Linked DNA regions of Homo sapiens. The protein of the gene in region 1 purifies or fractionates together with the protein of each later gene. This does not show direct contact. Each region holds a gene or a part of one and is shown in the gene's direction. Other genes may lie near its edges. The genes, in order: CELA1, USP54, PRRC2A, HELZ and SMYD2.

Evidence for each region.
Region 2: the proteins of CELA1 (region 1) and USP54 purify together in Homo sapiens (affinity purification with mass spectrometry; 2 studies listed by BioGRID and IntAct, with this or other methods). This does not show direct contact.
Region 3: the proteins of CELA1 (region 1) and PRRC2A purify together in Homo sapiens (affinity purification with mass spectrometry; one large-scale study listed by BioGRID and IntAct). This does not show direct contact.
Region 4: the proteins of CELA1 (region 1) and HELZ purify together in Homo sapiens (affinity purification with mass spectrometry; 2 studies listed by BioGRID and IntAct, with this or other methods). This does not show direct contact.
Region 5: the proteins of CELA1 (region 1) and SMYD2 purify together in Homo sapiens (affinity purification with mass spectrometry; 2 studies listed by BioGRID and IntAct, with this or other methods). This does not show direct contact.

What each region holds. Positions count from the first base shown.
Region 1 is NC_000012.12:51,329,663-51,333,181, reverse strand, and holds part of CELA1 (chymotrypsin-like elastase family member 1), read left to right. Parts: intron 1-3,348; coding exon 3,349-3,498; intron 3,499-3,519. UniProt on the Homo sapiens protein: Serine proteases that hydrolyze many proteins in addition to elastin.
Region 2 is NC_000010.11:73,514,832-73,518,350, reverse strand, and holds part of USP54 (ubiquitin carboxyl-terminal hydrolase 54), read left to right. Parts: intron 1-603; coding exon 604-1,976; intron 1,977-3,519.
Region 3 is NC_000006.12:31,627,215-31,630,733, forward strand, and holds part of PRRC2A (protein PRRC2A), read left to right. Parts: intron 1-550; coding exon 551-1,025; intron 1,026-1,929; coding exon 1,930-2,120; intron 2,121-2,333; coding exon 2,334-2,631; intron 2,632-3,376; coding exon 3,377-3,519. UniProt on the Homo sapiens protein: May play a role in the regulation of pre-mRNA splicing.
Region 4 is NC_000017.11:67,105,686-67,109,204, reverse strand, and holds part of HELZ (probable helicase with zinc finger domain), read left to right. Parts: coding exon 1-89; intron 90-478; coding exon 479-713; intron 714-1,519; coding exon 1,520-2,036; intron 2,037-3,519. UniProt on the Homo sapiens protein: May act as a helicase that plays a role in RNA metabolism in multiple tissues and organs within the developing embryo.
Region 5 is NC_000001.11:214,287,655-214,291,173, forward strand, and holds part of SMYD2 (N-lysine methyltransferase SMYD2), read left to right. Parts: intron 1-3,519. UniProt on the Homo sapiens protein: Protein-lysine N-methyltransferase that methylates both histones and non-histone proteins, including p53/TP53 and RB1. Specifically trimethylates histone H3 'Lys-4' (H3K4me3) in vivo. The activity requires interaction with HSP90alpha.

The sequences.
Region 1 (3,519 bases):
CGGAAGTGGCAGTGAGCTGAGATCATGCCATTACACTCCAGCCTGGGCAACAAGAGCGAAACTCAGTCTCAAAAAAAAAAAAAAATTAACGGGGAGTGGGGCTACACATCTATACTCCCAGCTACTCAGGCGGCTGAGGCAGGAGAATCACCTGAACCTGGGAGGTGGTGGTTGCAGTGAGCCGAAATGGCACTACTGCACTCCAGCCTGGACGACAGAGCGAGACTCCATCTCAAAACAAACACACACAGAATTATCCCAGTTTGAAATTTTGGTCTCTTTCCCTAGTTTTTTTTAAGTTTTACTTTTGTTTGTTTGTTTTTGAGACAGAGTCTTGCTCTGTTGCCCAGGCTGGAGTACGGTAGCGTGATCTCAGCTCACTGCAACCTCCTCCTCCTGGGTTCTTGTGCCTCAGCCTCCTCAGTAGCTGGGATGACAGGCATGAGCCACCATACCTGGCTAATTTTTTTTGTATTTTTAGTAGAGTCGGGGTTTCGCTATGTTGGCCAGGCTGGTCTCAAACTCCTGGCGTCACGTGATCCACCCACCTCGGCTTCCCAAAGTGCTGGGATTACAGGTGTAAGCCACCACACCTGGCCCCAAGTTTTACTTTTTATTGAAGCTTAAATTGGCAAATAAGATTATGGGGCTCAATAATGGAAAAGAATAGCTACTCTAGTTCTCCCACCCCATGGGAGGCCACTTTCAACTCTTCAGCTGATTCTTTTGGTGTCTACATCTTTAAAATTATATACTTACACTGCTATTTTTGTGTTGACATTATGGCAGATGTGATTCTCTTTATTTTTTATATATACATACCTGCCCTCCAAGCATGACATTTTCTGATCACCATCTCAACCTCTCAAAATATTTTGGTTAGATCAACATTCGGCATTTACTATGATTATATAAAATGCTATTTACAACAAAATCATGTAATATATTCTAGGTTTACTTTTCATTTGCTGCATAACTTTTTTTTTTTTTTTTTAAAGAGACAGGATCTTACTCTGTCACCCAGGCTGGAGTGCAGTAGCACAATCACAGCTCACTGCAGCCTTGAATTTCTGGGCTCAAGAAATCCTCCCACCTCAATCTCCTGAGTAGCCAGGACTACAGGCACATGCCACCACACTCAGCTGATTTTTTAAAATTTTAATAGAGATGGGGGTCTCGGTTTGTACCCCAGGCTGGTCTCAAACTCCTGGCTTTAGCTTAAGCAGTCCTCCTGCCTCAGCCTCCCAAAGTGCTGGGATTACAGTCATAAACCACCAAGGTCAGCCCTTGCTGCACAACTTTTTCAATTTTTTCAATGTCTGTTAAAAATTGTCTTTTTCATTTGCTTAATATAGTCAGTTTTTCATTAATTCAACCCCACACACTCCACTAATTTGTTAAGTGACCTATATCATCTTCTCTTGACCTAGTGGTCTATGTGGATCTATTTGCATTCGTTGTGAGGGATACTTAATGGGTGGGTTTTCCCGGAAACTCCAGACCTTTGATCCAGAAAATGTTGTTTATTTGTTGATTTCCTCCCACTCTATTTTCACTTTTCTCTTTCTAGAATTTCTGTTATTCACATGTTTGCCTCCTAAGCTGGTCCTCTTGTTTTCTCTATATCTTGTTTGTTCTATCTTATGTTCCAACTCTTCCAGTCTCTCATTTCTAAATCTATCAAATCTGTAATTTCCAAAGGCTCTTTTTGCTGTCTGAATGTTGTTTAGTAGTATGCCGTTCTTGTATCATGGATGCATATTAGTCATGTTTTTTGTTTGTGTGTTTGTTTTGAGACGGAGTCTCGCTCTGTCGCCCAGGCTGAAGTGCAGTGGTGCAATCTCAGCTCACTACAACCTCCAGCTCCTGGGTTCAAGCGATTCTCCTGCCTCAGCCTCCTGAGTAACTGGGATTACAGGCATGTACCACCACGCCCGGCTAATTTTTGTATTTTTAATAGAGTTTTAGGGGTTTCACTGTGTTGGCCTAGTCTTGAACTCCTGACCTCAGGTGATCCGCCCGCCTCAGCCTCCCAAAGTGCTGGGATTACAGGTGTGGAGCCACCATGCCCAGCCTATTAGTTATGGTTTTATTGCTTGTTTTCTTCTCCCTGCATAGTCTTGGTTGCCTTCATTTTTTTATTTAGCTCCTTGTTTCTTTGTTTCAATCTTTATTTTTATATTAGATGAATTCCTTTTTTTTTTTTTTTTTTGAGACAGAGTCTCACTCTGTCGCCCAGGCTGGAGCCCAGTGGCGCCATCTTGGCTCACTGCAAGCTCTGCCTCCCGGGTTCACGCCATTCTCCTGCCTCAGCCTCCCGAGTAGCTGGGACTACAGGCGCCCACCACCACGCCCGGCTAATTTTTTGTATTTTTAGTAGAGATGGGGTTTCACCGTGTTAGCCAGGATGGTCTCGATCTCCTGACCTCGTGATCCGCCCGCCTCAGCCTCCCAAAGTGCTGGGATTACAGGCATGAGTCACTGGGCCCGGCTAGAGGCATTCTTTAGATGTTTAGTGATCCTTAACCATCTGCTTTTATTTCAGAGTGGGGGTGGTATTTTTACCCAGAGTGGGTGGGCTGATTGGTAGCTCTGAGCCTTAGATGGGGTTCATCAATAGTGGATTCTCTGTCAGGTGATCTGGCTAGGCCATTTTAGTGGAGGACCTCCAATGTCAGTATCTTTAGGTCTTTCCTCTTGGACTGTTCAGTTTTTCCAGAGAAGTATCTTCCCATTTTATGTGTGGCATTATGGACCTGGCATTCTAGAAGCTGAGTAAGAAGGGAGGCAAGATCATATTCCATAAACCCAGGTTCCCAGTTGAGCATGTGACCTAATACATCACTTTCCTCTTCATTCCAGTTTAGTTTAGCATGTTTTGACTACCAAGTCTAAATACTTGGTCTAATTATACCCATTGGTCTAAATGCTGGGGATAAAGAAATTATTAGAATGCCCTATTTTTGCCACCCCAGGTTCAATTTAAGCCAATAAAAGCGATTGAACTTTAGATATTTAAAGTTCTATGCTAGCATTGTGGAGAGGAAAGATCTTGGTAAGAGTTTTTGTCTCAGGAAGCTCATAGACATGTGTGAGGAGGTACAAACAAATTATGAAACCAAAATACAAGGCAGAACATGAAATAAGTGCAGCAAAAGAGAAGAAGTATTGTGGTTGTTTAGAAAGGAAGAAGAGATTCATTTTGATTGTGGGGACATGAAGGAGGTGGAGATTTGCATTGGAGCTTTAAAACCGTACAGAATTTCACAACCAGAGACGGGGGCGGGGGGAGTGCAAGCAAAAGCCCGAAGATCTGGAGTTTTAGGATTCTGTTTCTCCTCCCTGCAGGGTGACTCTGGGGGCCCCCTCCATTGCTTGGTGAATGGCAAGTATTCTGTCCATGGAGTGACCAGCTTTGTGTCCAGCCGGGGCTGTAATGTCTCCAGGAAGCCTACAGTCTTCACCCAGGTCTCTGCTTACATCTCCTGGATAAATAATGTGAGTCCTCTCAAATGATGG
Region 2 (3,519 bases), on another chromosome or scaffold:
TGCTTTGGGGAAACATCTCAGTGACTAATAGAACAAAATCCAGATTATAAAAACATATTTGAAATGGTTAATTTCTGTGTATTCCCATGAGCCCAAATCACCCTGTATTTTGTAAATGTGGCCTCATAGTTCCTTTGGCCGGGCTGCCTCTCAGGACCCCAGGTAGGACTTGCCTCCCTGTATAGCATCCTGGATTTTTGCTGTTTGGTATGAGTGATTTTCAGGCTTTGCTTACCTTCCATGTCATCTGCATGTGAGACTAGCTGATTTTGTTTCCTAATTTGCAAGTAGAATGTGATTGGAATGCGACTTCACAGGTAGTGAAGAATATTGGCAAGGGCTCCACTTAATGTTACTGTGCAACTTTGGTGAGGGTGTTTAATAAAGAGGATTAACGTTACCTATTTACCTGAGTGTGAGCTGACCATGTGCCTTTTCTTTTGTGATCCTCTGAACTACTGACTCTACTTGTGCTTGTCTTTCTGTTTATTTTTACCATTCCCTGTGTGAATAGCTAGAAATGGGAATGGAATGTTGAGTTCTTTCTGTAAGTGTTCCTGTCAGTCAAGGCAGCTTATGACTAGCTCTCTCCATTTGTTTCAGTGAACAGCCTATCCCGCTCCAAGTATTGTTAAGCCAAGAGGCCCAACTGGAATCCGGCATGGATACAGAGTTTGGGGCCAGTTCTTTCTTCCATTCACCTGCTTCCTGCCATGAGTCACACTCATCACTATCTCCAGAGTCATCTGCCCCACAGCACAGCTCCCCCAGTAGATCTGCCTTGAAGCTTCTGACTTCGGTTGAAGTAGACAACATTGAACCCTCTGCATTCCACAGGCAAGGTTTACCTAAAGCACCAGGGTGGACTGAGAAGAATTCTCATCATAGTTGGGAGCCATTGGATGCCCCAGAGGGTAAGCTGCAAGGCTCTAGGTGTGACAACAGCAGTTGCAGCAAGCTCCCTCCACAAGAAGGAAGAGGCATTGCTCAAGAACAGCTGTTCCAAGAAAAGAAGGATCCTGCTAACCCCTCCCCGGTGATGCCTGGAATAGCCACCTCTGAGAGGGGTGATGAACACAGCCTAGGCTGTAGTCCTTCAAATTCATCAGCTCAGCCCAGCCTTCCCCTGTATAGAACCTGCCACCCCATAATGCCTGTTGCTTCTTCATTTGTGCTTCACTGTCCTGATCCTGTGCAGAAAACTAACCAATGCCTCCAAGGCCAAAGCCTCAAAACTTCATTGACTTTAAAAGTGGACAGAGGCAGTGAGGAGACCTATAGGCCAGAGTTTCCCAGCACAAAGGGGCTTGTCCGTTCTCTGGCTGAGCAGTTCCAGAGGATGCAGGGTGTCTCCATGAGGGATAGTACAGGTTTCAAGGATAGAAGTTTGTCAGGTAGTCTAAGGAAGAACTCTTCCCCTTCTGATTCTAAGCCTCCTTTCTCACAGGGTCAAGAGAAAGGCCACTGGCCATGGGCAAAGCAACAATCCTCTCTGGAGGGTGGGGATAGACCACTTTCCTGGGAAGAGTCCACTGAACATTCTTCTCTTGCCTTAAACTCTGGGCTGCCTAATGGTGAAACTTCTAGCGGAGGACAGCCCAGGTTGGCAGAGCCAGACATATACCAAGAGAAGCTGTCCCAAGTGAGAGATGTTAGGTCTAAGGATCTGGGCAGCAGTACTGACTTGGGGACTTCCTTGCCTTTGGATTCCTGGGTGAATATCACAAGGTTCTGTGATTCTCAGCTTAAGCATGGGGCACCTAGGCCAGGAATGAAGTCCTCCCCTCATGATTCCCATACGTGTGTAACCTATCCAGAGAGAAATCACATCCTTTTGCATCCACATTGGAACCAAGACACAGAGCAGGAGACCTCAGAATTGGAGTCTCTGTATCAGGCCAGTCTTCAGGCTTCTCAAGCTGGCTGTTCTGGATGGGGGCAGCAGGATACCGCCTGGCACCCACTTAGCCAAACAGGTAAGAATGCAACCAGGGGTTGGGGGGAGGGGGGAGGATCATATAAAAGCTGAAAGCAGGGAAAGATCAGAAGGGAGTGTTCTATACAGATACTATCCCCAGCTTAGTAGGAGGTAATAGAACTTTTGACTTTACTCAGAAAGCCTTCAGGACAAGACCTAGACATTTTTCTGGCTAGAGTGGAGGAAGGGGCAGAATTACCACTCATAGGCAACTTCCCTCCTTCTAAAGTAAGAGATTACTAAGTATTTGCCCATGGCTTCTCCAGTATGCTGTGCTAAAGAATGGTTCAGGGCCGGGCACGGTGGCTCACTCCTGTAATCCCAGCACTTTGGGAGGTCGAGGCGGGCAGATCACAAGGTCAGGAGATCGAGACCATCCTGGCCAACATAGTGAAACCCCTTCTCTACTAAAAATACAGAAAATTAGCCGGGCGTGGTGGTACTTGCCTGTAGTCCCAGCTACTCGGGAGGCTGAGGCAGGGAAATCACTTGAATTCGGGAGGCAGAGGTTACAGTGAGCTGAGATCGCACCACTGCACTCCAACCTGGGTAACAGAATGAGACTCCGTTTCAAAAAAAAAAAAAAAAAAAGAATGGTTCATAGGTGTTTGAGAGTGATTCAGCATGACAGCATGAAATGGAGGGAGGCTGAGAGGAAAATATATTCTTCTATGGCTTAGAATCCCAAGATTCAGCCTCCAGGTCTGCTTTGCAGTAGGATGTCCATATGCTCAGTGTGGACATTTCCAGATCATACTGAACCAGCAATATCAAGACCTTCCTGATCCCTTTAGGAAAAGTCAAGTTTGGTGTTCAAGGAATTTTTAATGTACTATATGCCTACAGGGTAGCCACTGACTGAGATAATACAGAGTGAAGAGTAGAGCCTGCACCTGAAGTGCACATCATAGTCAGTTCTGGAAATTGAAGACATGAAGAATGTTTGTAACTTACATTGATGCACTTAACTCCAAAGCCTGAACTATTTTCCTGATTCCAACATTAACTCTCAGTATAAATTTGGACAAGTCACTTAATATCCCAGGGCCAAGGTTTTACCTGTAAAATGAGAGAACTGGCTTTTTTTTTAAAAAAAGATATGTTCTAACTCTAAAATGGCATGTATGATTCTGTGAAATTGAACTTGGAGAACTTTTCCTTAGCTTGGCTGTGACAGTTTCTGTAATGGTGCAGGTTCCTTGCATGCTGACAACCAACATATAATTACAGTTGAGTAAGTGTTTATTGAGTACTTACTGTGTTCTCCAGAGCCTTTGAGGGGAATACCACATAAATATAAGATTTGATTTTTTATTCATTTTTTTTTTTTTCTGAGAAGAGTTGCACTCCTGTTGCCCAGGCTGGAGTGCAATGGCGTGATCTCAGCTCACTGCAACCTCCGCCTCCCGGGTTCAAGTGATTCTCCTGCCTCAGCCTCCCAAGTAGCTGAGATTACAGGCGTCCACCACCACACCTGGCTAACTCTTGTATTTTTAGTAGAGACAGGGTTTCACCACGTTGGCCAGGCTGGTCTTGAACTC
Region 3 (3,519 bases), on another chromosome or scaffold:
AGGGATTGAGAGGGTCAGCTGTGGGAAATTGGTGTCAGCTGAGTAATTGAAGCGGTTGTGATATAGAGGAAGGGGGGTGCTAAAAATGGGCTGTGTGAAGTGCCAGGCTGCAGAACATCCTGGGAAGCTTTTAAATATCTTTGGTAATAGGGGAGTCTGGGTAAGAAGTGAGAAACTGGGATGCTAATGAGGAAAGAAGAAAAAGGAGCCCTGGGTGTTTGGGTTTCGGAAGGAGAGAGGGAACAGAAAAATAAAAAGACTAGGGTGGCTAGATAGCTGGATCTGTTAGTATGCATCAGTAGTCCAAGCTACTCAGCAGGCTGAAGCAGAAGGATCACTTGAGCCCAAGTTCAAGACCAGCCTGGGCAACATAGCAAGACGTGGTCTCAAAGAAGACCAGGATAATGAGTTTGTCACCACCCAGAGAGATCAACCCCAAAGCCTGGGTCGTTGCATCCTGCAAGTAGCGACAGTTGATTTGTTGTAAAAGAGATGATAGAAAGCATAGTAACTGATTCCCCTGGCCCTGCTGGGTCTTGCCAATTGACAGGATCGTGGGGGTCCTCCCTGCAAGCCCCCAGCACCTGAAGATGAGGATGAGGCATGGCGGCAGCGACGAAAGCAGTCGTCATCTGAGATTTCCCTGGCAGTGGAGCGGGCCCGGCGACGGCGAGAAGAAGAGGAGCGGCGCATGCAAGAAGAGCGCCGGGCAGCCTGTGCTGAGAAGCTCAAGCGACTCGATGAAAAGTTTGGGGCACCTGACAAGCGGCTCAAAGCAGAGCCTGCTGCCCCACCTGCTGCCCCTTCTACCCCAGCTCCACCACCTGCAGTCCCTAAAGAACTCCCTGCACCTCCAGCTCCACCTCCAGCATCAGCCCCAACACCAGAGACAGAACCTGAAGAGCCAGCACAGGCCCCTCCTGCCCAATCTACTCCTACTCCAGGTGTGGCTGCGGCTCCCACTCTGGTGAGTGGTGGTGGCAGTACCAGTAGCACCAGCAGTGGCAGCTTCGAAGCCAGCCCAGGTATGGAGATGGGGATAGGTACTACCAGATGTCAGATCACTGCTTCAAGGTGCTTAAAGGTGCAGGGTGGTAAGGCTGGGGATAAATGAAGTAGAAGGCAGTTGTTTTGGTTTATTGGACTATCAGTGATAGTGTTCTATCATTTGTATATCTGAAGGAGGGAAGGTTTTGTCTGGAATCTTAGGTTGTAGTCTAATACCATTTCTTGGCAGAGTACTGTAGCTCACGCCTATAATCCCAACACTTAGGGAGGCTTGGGGTGGAGGATCGCTTGAGCCTAGGGAGTTTGAGACCAGCCTGGGCAACAAAGCAAGACCCTGTCGGCCAGGCATGGTGGCTCACACTTGTAATCCCAGCACTCTGGGAGGCCGAGGCGGGCAGAACATGAGGTCAGGAGTTCAAGATCAGCCTGGCCAACATAGTGAAACCCGTCTCTACTAAAAATACAAAAATTAGCCAAGTGTGGTGGCATGTGCTTGTAGTCCCAGCTGCTTGGGAGGCTGAGGTAGTAGAATCGCTTTAACCCGGGAGGCAGAGATTTCTGTGAGCCAAGACCATGCCATTGCACTCCAGCCTGGGTGACAGAGCAAGACTCTGTCTCAAAAAAAAATCCTGTCTCACAAGAAATACATAAATAAAAATGAAAACTATTTCCTATAGGCCAAGACTGAAGAAAGTACTGTTGTTCTAATGGTTTCATAGAAAGTTAATGCCACCACCATAGGCTCATGAGAGGCCATGAAGTGCTTTAATGGGTCTTAAATGGGAGGGGCTTCAATAGAATAGATGTTGAATAGAATATTTTAGTCTTAAGGGAGCTAGAGATGAGACGTGAGATTCCTGGGGTGTTCATGGAGTGTCTATTGTTGGACTAGATCACTCTGTTGTGTTTTTTCCGATGCAGTGGAACCACAACTGCCCTCAAAAGAGGGTCCTGAACCACCAGAAGAGGTTCCTCCTCCTACCACACCCCCAGTTCCAAAGGTGGAACCCAAGGGTGATGGGATTGGTCCCACCCGCCAGCCCCCTAGTCAGGGCTTGGGCTACCCCAAATATCAGAAGTCGTTGCCTCCTCGTTTCCAGCGGCAGCAGCAGGTGAAATCAAGTTGTTTACCCTCTAAGGGCTGCTTTTCTTCCTGGCTTCGGTCCCTAATTCTCTTCATAAGTTACCTTCTGGGTCCCTTTGCTTCTTTGTCCAGTTGTCTCCATTGTCACGCCAATTTCCCCTAGTCCAAGTTTTTTCTTTGCTGATTCCTTTGTCCATGTGTGCTTTGAGCCTCTCTCATCTTGTCTTTCCTCCTTTCCTAGGAGCAGCTCCTGAAGCAGCAGCAGCAGCACCAGTGGCAGCAGCATCAACAGGGCTCTGCCCCTCCTACCCCAGTGCCCCCATCACCACCACAGCCTGTGACCCTGGGGGCTGTGCCAGCTCCACAGGCTCCACCCCCGCCCCCCAAGGCCCTGTACCCAGGTGCTCTGGGCCGGCCCCCACCCATGCCCCCAATGAACTTTGATCCCCGATGGATGATGATTCCTCCTTATGTGGACCCCCGGCTCCTCCAGGGTCGTCCCCCTCTAGACTTCTACCCTCCTGGTGTGCATCCCTCTGGTAAGGGGGCATGGGAGGAGTGAGAAACAGGAAAGTCCCCTCAGTCTTAGGCATTGGATATTAGGGTCTTACTGTGACTCTGGTACGATAGGTTTTGCCCATCATAGTGATGAGGGAAGGGCATATGCTTGGCACTGCTGAGATAGCTCTGTTGCAAAAATGGGCTTAGTTAAGAAATAAGCAGTGGTTGGCCAGGCATTGTGGCTCACGCCTGTAATCCCAGCACTTAGGGAGGCCGAGGTGGGCAGATCAACTGAGTTCAGGAGTTCGAGACCACCATGGCTAACGTGGTAAAACCCCATTTCTACTAAAAATACAAAAAAGTAGCCGGCGTGGTGGCGCTCGCCTGTAGTCCCAGCTACTCGGGAGACTGAGGCAGGAGAAACGCTTGAACCCAGGAGGTGGAGGTTGTAGTGAGCCGAGATTGTGCCATCGCACTCCAGCTTAGGCAACGAGCGAAACTCCGTCTCAAAAATGAATGAATGAATAGCACAACTCCATCTCAAAAATGAATGAATGAATGAAAGAAGCAGTGGTCCTTCATTTGCCAGGATTTATTTGGGGTGGGTTGATTCTCTTGTAGGGAATCTGAGTGGATAACCTTGTTATATAAGAGCAGGCAAGGCCCGGACCTACTGGGAACAAGAGATGGAAGAGCTGACTTGACCGCGAGGGGAGATGCTTTTTGGGCTGGAGGGCTTGTGACATGAATAGGATTATTTTTCTTTTTCTTTGGTTTCTTCAGGCCTAGTTCCCCGAGAGCGTTCAGACAGTGGGGGCTCAAGCTCAGAGCCATTTGACCGTCATGCACCTGCTATGTTACGGGAACGGGGCACTCCACCGGTGGATCCAAAGTTGGCCTGGGTAGGAGATGTCTTCACCGCCACA
Region 4 (3,519 bases), on another chromosome or scaffold:
CATTGCACAACCCGGCCCCATTCTTCCTTCACATCTGAATAGCTTCATTGATGAGAACCCCTCGGGATTACCTATAGGGGAGGCTTTAGGTAAGTTCTATTACTGCCAGATGTGAAAATTCAGAGATTACTTAACATGACTTGGACTGTATAATATCATTTTGGGTTAAGATTGAATTGTTTCTTCAAATAATGCTAGCAAAACCCCCCCATTTAGTGTGATAATCAGAAACTAGTTCTAAATGCTGTATGATAGTATCCAGTGGATGTCAGGATCATCATTATGTAAGTGAGGAAGAGTTGTCATCATCATCACCATAACTGATTTCTGGCAAATTTAGAAAACATTTACTTCTTACCAAAACCAAATTTGTAGCTACGTCCTTTGTCTTTGTGGAGAAAATATGTTAGTAAAAAACTTTAAATAATGAACTTGAAACCCCAAATTCATAAAAAATTTTTCACAAATATTTTTGCAGATCGTATACATGGGAGTGTCGCTCTGGAAACATTAAGGCAGCAGCAGGCACGGTTCCAGCAGTGGAGCGAGCATCATGCCTTTCTCAGTCAGGGCAGCGCTCCATACCCACACCATCACCATCCTCACCTCCAGCATCTTCCTCAGCCGCCCCTGGGATTACATCAGCCGCCAGTGAGGGCAGACTGGAAGCTCACCAGCAGTGCCGAAGATGAAGTGGAGACCACATACTCAAGGTATTCCAGCGGACTGAAAATAGCCCCTGGAATGCGACCCCCTCACTGTTCTCTTTTTTGACTGTAGTCCTTTTAGCTTCAAGCTGGAATATTGCCTCAGAGAAATTGGATGCTGGCCTTCCAAGCACACGCTACACAGTTCTCTTGTTGACTCTAAAATACAGAAAACTCATTTAGAAGTAACTCTTCTACAAATTTAGGCATGGATGATCTACTATGGGTTGGAAATTAACTTGTTCCCTTACTTTGTGGTCTTTTCTGCGAGAGAAACATACCATCACTGTGAGCAGCTTTTTTTATTTAGTAGTAATACTTGCAAAGAATGAATAAAGACAGGAGTAAATTCGTGGTTAAAAGCTAAAAATTATATCATTAATTATTTTTATGGTGGCACAGAATTCTACATTCCTATAATTCCAGCTACATATGAGTATTTGGTCCTAACTCTAAGCTTGTTTTTGTGGCCAGTGTCACATGAATGCTCTGAAGTGTTTCCTAATCCCTTCTGAATAAGGTCCACCATCATGGTGACCTTTTATAACTTCCAGTTGTCAAAGCTGTATAGAGACAAGGACAGATGTTTTTAATACAATGGGAACAGAAAGAAATCAGGTAATTGAGCATATTTAATTTCTTCACCTCAGCATCTATTGAGTGTTAATGCTTACATCTGAGATGAATTAATGCCAGTTCTAGTTATTAGTACTATGATTTTGTTTGTTGAAAATACATGTGTAGTTGACTAAGCTTTCCTTAATGTGATGGAGCCTTTTGTTTTCTCCTCATATTTTATTGTTTTCATGTAGGTTTCAAGACTTAATCAGAGAACTGTCTCATCGTGATCAAAGTGAAACACGGGAACTAGCTGAAATGCCACCACCTCAATCAAGACTTTTGCAATATAGACAAGTACAGAGTAGAAGCCCACCAGCAGTCCCATCTCCCCCATCCAGTACAGACCACAGTAGCCACTTTTCTAACTTTAATGATAACAGCAGAGACATTGAAGTAGCCAGCAACCCAGCATTTCCACAGCGCCTCCCACCCCAGATATTCAACTCACCTTTCTCGTTGCCATCTGAACACCTTGCCCCTCCTCCCTTGAAATACCTGGCACCTGATGGAGCATGGACTTTTGCTAACTTGCAACAGAATCACCTAATGGGGCCAGGTTTTCCCTATGGCCTACCTCCATTGCCTCACAGGCCACCGCAGAACCCTTTTGTACAAATACAGAATCATCAACATGCTATTGGTCAAGAGCCATTTCACCCATTGTCATCTCGAACAGTATCTTCTTCTTCGCTCCCTAGCTTAGAAGAGGTAAATGTCTTCTTATTTTCCTTTTGTTATTAGCTGATTGTGAAAAATATCAGTATTTATTGATTTGATAATAGGAAGGCACAGATCTTATTGAATTTAACAGCGTATTAAAGATAATCCTTTCTTGGGAATTATTTTAATTGCCACCCTCCTATTGTATTTCAGGTTTTGTAAAGTGGACACTTTTGTTGAAACATGAAGCCCCTTAAAAGTCTTTTATTGCTGTTTAAAGAAAATATTGAATATCTGAGGACTCTATTCAAGGAGCTTTGTCTTTTTTTAATCTGAGGAAATGGCTTTTAGTGATTCTTCTTTTCGCTTTAAGTTACATGTGTTAATTATAAATTTGTTAATGAGAACTTTCCAAAGATGCTGGCTTTTCAGCCAGTGCCAGCTCCAAGTGCTGTGCTCCTTCTCCTGCCACTCAGCCTGGTGCTTTGTTAGACCCAGGGACTCTGATTCCCAAATATCAGAATTTGCAGATTTTTAACATAAAATTGACTGTGCTAAACTAAGCATTTTAAGTTAAACTGAATTTTATCTTAAAATACTTAGATATTTCTGCCGGGTGCAGTGGCTCACGCTTGTAATCCCAGCACTTGGGGAGGCCGAGGCGGGCAGATCACGAGGTCAGGAGATCGAGACCATCCTGGCTAACACGGTGAAACCCCGTCTCTACTAAAAATAGAAAAAATTAGCTGGGCGTGGTGGCGGGCGCCTGTAGTCCCAGCTACTCGGGAGGCTGAGGCAGGAGAATGGCGTGAACCCGGGAGGCTGAGCTTGCAGTGAGCCAAGATATGCCACTGCACTCCAGCGTGGGCGACAGAGCAAGACTCTGTCTCAAAAAAAAAAATAAATAAATAAAGTAAAATACTTAGATATTTCTAAAGAGCATCTTTATGGACTTTTTTTTCCTATGAAAAACTTAGTAATTCCAGGTTATAAAACTTCCAAAGCAGTACCATGTGGTGTAGGCTACAAAAATGTCTAGCTGATCCCATTAAATTTGCAGTGATTAAAGATAAAAATGTGTAAAGCCGGTTGTAGTCATATCAGACAGAGACATCTTAAATCAGGATAAAGATTTCTAATTTTGATATATGAAAAATACTTTTTTGATATTAGCTTCATTTTGGCAGTTTCAGAATGATATCTAAAGGCCATTAGAAATAATTGATTCACATTTTACAAGTTGCCTGCTATAGATGCTAATTAAAAGTCAAGATTCATAGGGAAAGCTGTATGTCTTATTTGTAGGGATTTAGAGGCAGTCTGTTCAAATTGTCCCAGTATTCATTGATTGGCTCATTCTGTATAGCTGTCATTAAAACAACTTACTGTGATTTTAGGCTCTTAAAGTAAGTTAGAAGCACAATAAAGATGAATTGGTATCTACATATATGTATTGTGAGGATCTAGAATTTTGGAACCATACTTTACAAAAATTTGGCACACATCTGACAGTCTTTCAGATTATAATGAA
Region 5 (3,519 bases), on another chromosome or scaffold:
GTTCCCCAGAATTAATGATGGGGTCTGGGATTAGTTTTCAGTATTTTTCAAAACCTAATGGAAATAATATAATATACCTACACAGGTAAACCTTCTTCAAAAAAGAGCCTTTTCTCACTCCAAAGTCTTAGGCACTTTAATATTCTTTTAATAAGAAAAAACAAATATTTATAGAGAGAAATGGAAGAAAACAGAATTTTCCACATTGCAAGGATATCAGGGTTCCTTCTGCCTTTTACTTTCAGCACAATTGTTTCAACAGCAGCAAGGAGCCATCCTTTAAGACTTCAAATGTGCCAGTAACTCACGTTATTTTTCATATGCGGGGAACATAATTTCTGTTATAGCTTATAGGGGCTCAGTGACCAAGCTGCACGTTTGGAACCGATTTCAGATGAAAGAGACAGAATAACAGCAGGATATCCTGAAGTGAAATTCAAACCCTGGTGAGTTAAAACCACCATCTAACACCTTTCCCTCCCGAAGCAATTGCACAGAATCCTCTCAATCAAAAAAAATTCGAAGAACCTGTATAAAATGGCATTTCTTTAAATCATATTGCTCTTTGCAGCCCATAAAGCATTTCCAGATACATTCTTATTTTGATCCTTCCAAGGATGGCTGGTATACACAGGGCCTTATTCCATTTTACATAGAAAGAAACTGAGTGTTAGAGAAGTTAAGTGGTTTCTCTGAATTTCACACCTTTTTTGTCAAATATTTATTGAGTGCCTCTTAAAGGCCGGACTCCATGACCTTCAAGGATGGAGCCAAATCTCCCTGTTCCTCGTGTGATCTTCCTGTGCCCCCCTTTGGCCTGAACCTACTGTGTGGTTCACCCAGGGACTTCACCCTACATTACTACTGTGTGGTTCCCTGGAGACTGGGGGCTTAATCCGTCTCTGATATCTCCTTGATTGAATAGAATTTATAATTGGCCAACAATTTAACAAACGAATGCATTGTTTAAAGAATTATTTAAAGTTTTAAAAAATGTTTGATTCAGCCATCTTAGATCTATATTTTATGCTGATATGGACTTAAACATGTTGTTTTTATTATAATGCTTTGAAATTTGCATAAGAGCTACACATATTCTTTTATATGTATGAATTATTATGTAATAAAACATAAAAAGAACATGAGGCTTTGGTCCTTTTGTAGGCTTGGAATATTTTTAATATTACGCTAGGACTAAACCAGAGTTAGTCATCTCAGCCTTTATACCTACATATAAAGAGTTTGTTTCTGTGCCGTGTGATAGGGCAGCATCAGCCCATAGTCTTTTTTTTTTTTTTTTCCTTAAGCAAATCCATTCTTCAGGATCTCTCTCTGCAGAAGTTAAATCTCTTGAGTTGTGGAAATGGAATTTATGGTGCAGCTATAGGAGGCAGCCCCTGGTTGGTATTCCTGTAGAACAGGCAAGTTGCACACCACCTGTGAGAAGGTTCTTGTAAAAATATGTTAAATTTCTTTGAGAAGATCCAGGGCTCACTGCTATAGTTTGGCAGGAACCTGGTCTTTGGGAGAACTCAGAATTGGTGAGAATTCAGGACAGCAAAATTGTCTCTTTTAGGATTTGATATAGTGAGAGAATTGCAAAGGAAGTTTCTACTGTATTTGGGTGTTTTAGGCTTACTGCTTTGAACTTAGGTTAATATTCCCTCCTCTTTTCCCTGTCAGTATAAAAATATGAAATAATTACTGTTTTATGCCACTTTATTTCTGTCCTCGAAGGAAGCAATCAATAATTAAAAGCATGCTTTGTCTTCCTGGAGTCATGAATAATTAAATTGACTCCCCCCATCCACACACATCTTTTTTTGGACCTCAGATGTAGTTGAGGTAATCATACTTCTGAGTTCAAGGCATGCTTTTATCTGGTATATGCAAGGCAAATTTGATTTTTCAGAATGTTCCCTCTCATTTCCTGCTCTTCTCACAGACAGCTCCTCTATGGGTTTGGTTACGTATCTTTGAATACATGTGTATGTGTGTCCTGATGATCACTAGGGAACTAGACACACCTAGAACAAGGCACCCTGATTTTACTTGGCAGATTCAGACCTTGAGCTCTCTTCTGATCCTCCTGCTCACTCAGCGTTTTTCTGTGGCTGTGTCAGGGCAGGGGCCCCTGCACTGGCCCCTTCCTCCTGATGAGTGGCCTGTTCTGACACTTGAGGGAGGCAGGGCATTTTGAGGTCTCCTTTGCCTCTCAGGAACTTGCATTGTTAGCCCACCCACATCCCCAACCTTCACTTCTTTGGATTTCTAGGAAATCTGCAGTAGTTTAGGGGTGCAGTCCTTTGGCAGGGAATTAACTGAAGTACCTGCCTTTTCAGGGGTTGAACCCATGACCTTGGCCTCATTAGAGCTCTAACCAGTCACAAAGCACACACCTCACTTTGTGTAACTTCTGCTGACTTGTTCCTGCCACCCTCCGCGGCTTCCTATTCAATTGCAAAGGCGTTCACACCAACACAATAGAACAGAAGGAAATCAGATCTCTTCAAGACTTCTCTGAAGGACAGAAATATGCAATTTAGCAGGAAAATAATACAAAAAAGTCTTGAAGGTTCAGGAAACAACTTATCTTTCTAGTCCGTACATTCGCTGAGAATCCAGCTGTGTCTCTCAGATTCTTTTTCAATCAAAAATTTAAAAATAGCGTGGAACTCCTTGTGTTAATTTATTAACATAAAATCTAGCGACTCTTGTACATGAAGTGGAAGGTTTCGGATGACTAAGTGGAAATATTGTATGTATGTTATTAAAATGGATTGGGTTAGCTTTTATAGAAAAAGTGGATCTGAGAATTCATAAGTGCTTATCTTTGGCAAGTTTATAGTCCCTAGAGATAAAAATGAATGCGTGCTATAATAACAAAGACACTGTTGTGTCTTAGTGAGTGCACTGTGATGCTCAGGGTGTGTTGGTGCCCAGGGGACGCGGAGTCACCATGGAGGAGAGGAGAAACAAGGACAACTCCCTAGAGAAGTGAAATTCACACAGGGCTTGAAGACCTGAATGTATCTTGGGGGAGGGACGTGGTAAGATAATCTGGCTGTCCAAAAAGATACAGGTTTTTATTAGAGCCAAATAAAAAGCTCAAGGATTTTATGTCTTGGCACTTGGAAGGAGTTATGTTGAAATCTGTGTTCTGTTTAATCTGAGTACCAAGAAAGACTCTTCAGGGATGTAGGTACTGGCTCATATTTTTGATGAGATGGGGATTTTTCTTACTCTGGTGATGTTTGGATAGGAAACATTTGCTCATTTGCCACCTGAAAAATCTCTTCTCTGTCAATTCCGTGAATCCATGGTACAGTGACAGTTGCTGTTCACAGTGATAGCCTCATATGCTCTTAAAACCTCACCAATAAGACACATTTAATTATGAGCCAATAGTATACTCCCTAAGGGTAGGAATTCTACTTTTTAACTCAATCAAAAACATTTGTATTTGTGGACACTTAGTGGGTTCTATAGTTCTGGAAAACAACTCCAAAGAAAAGGAAC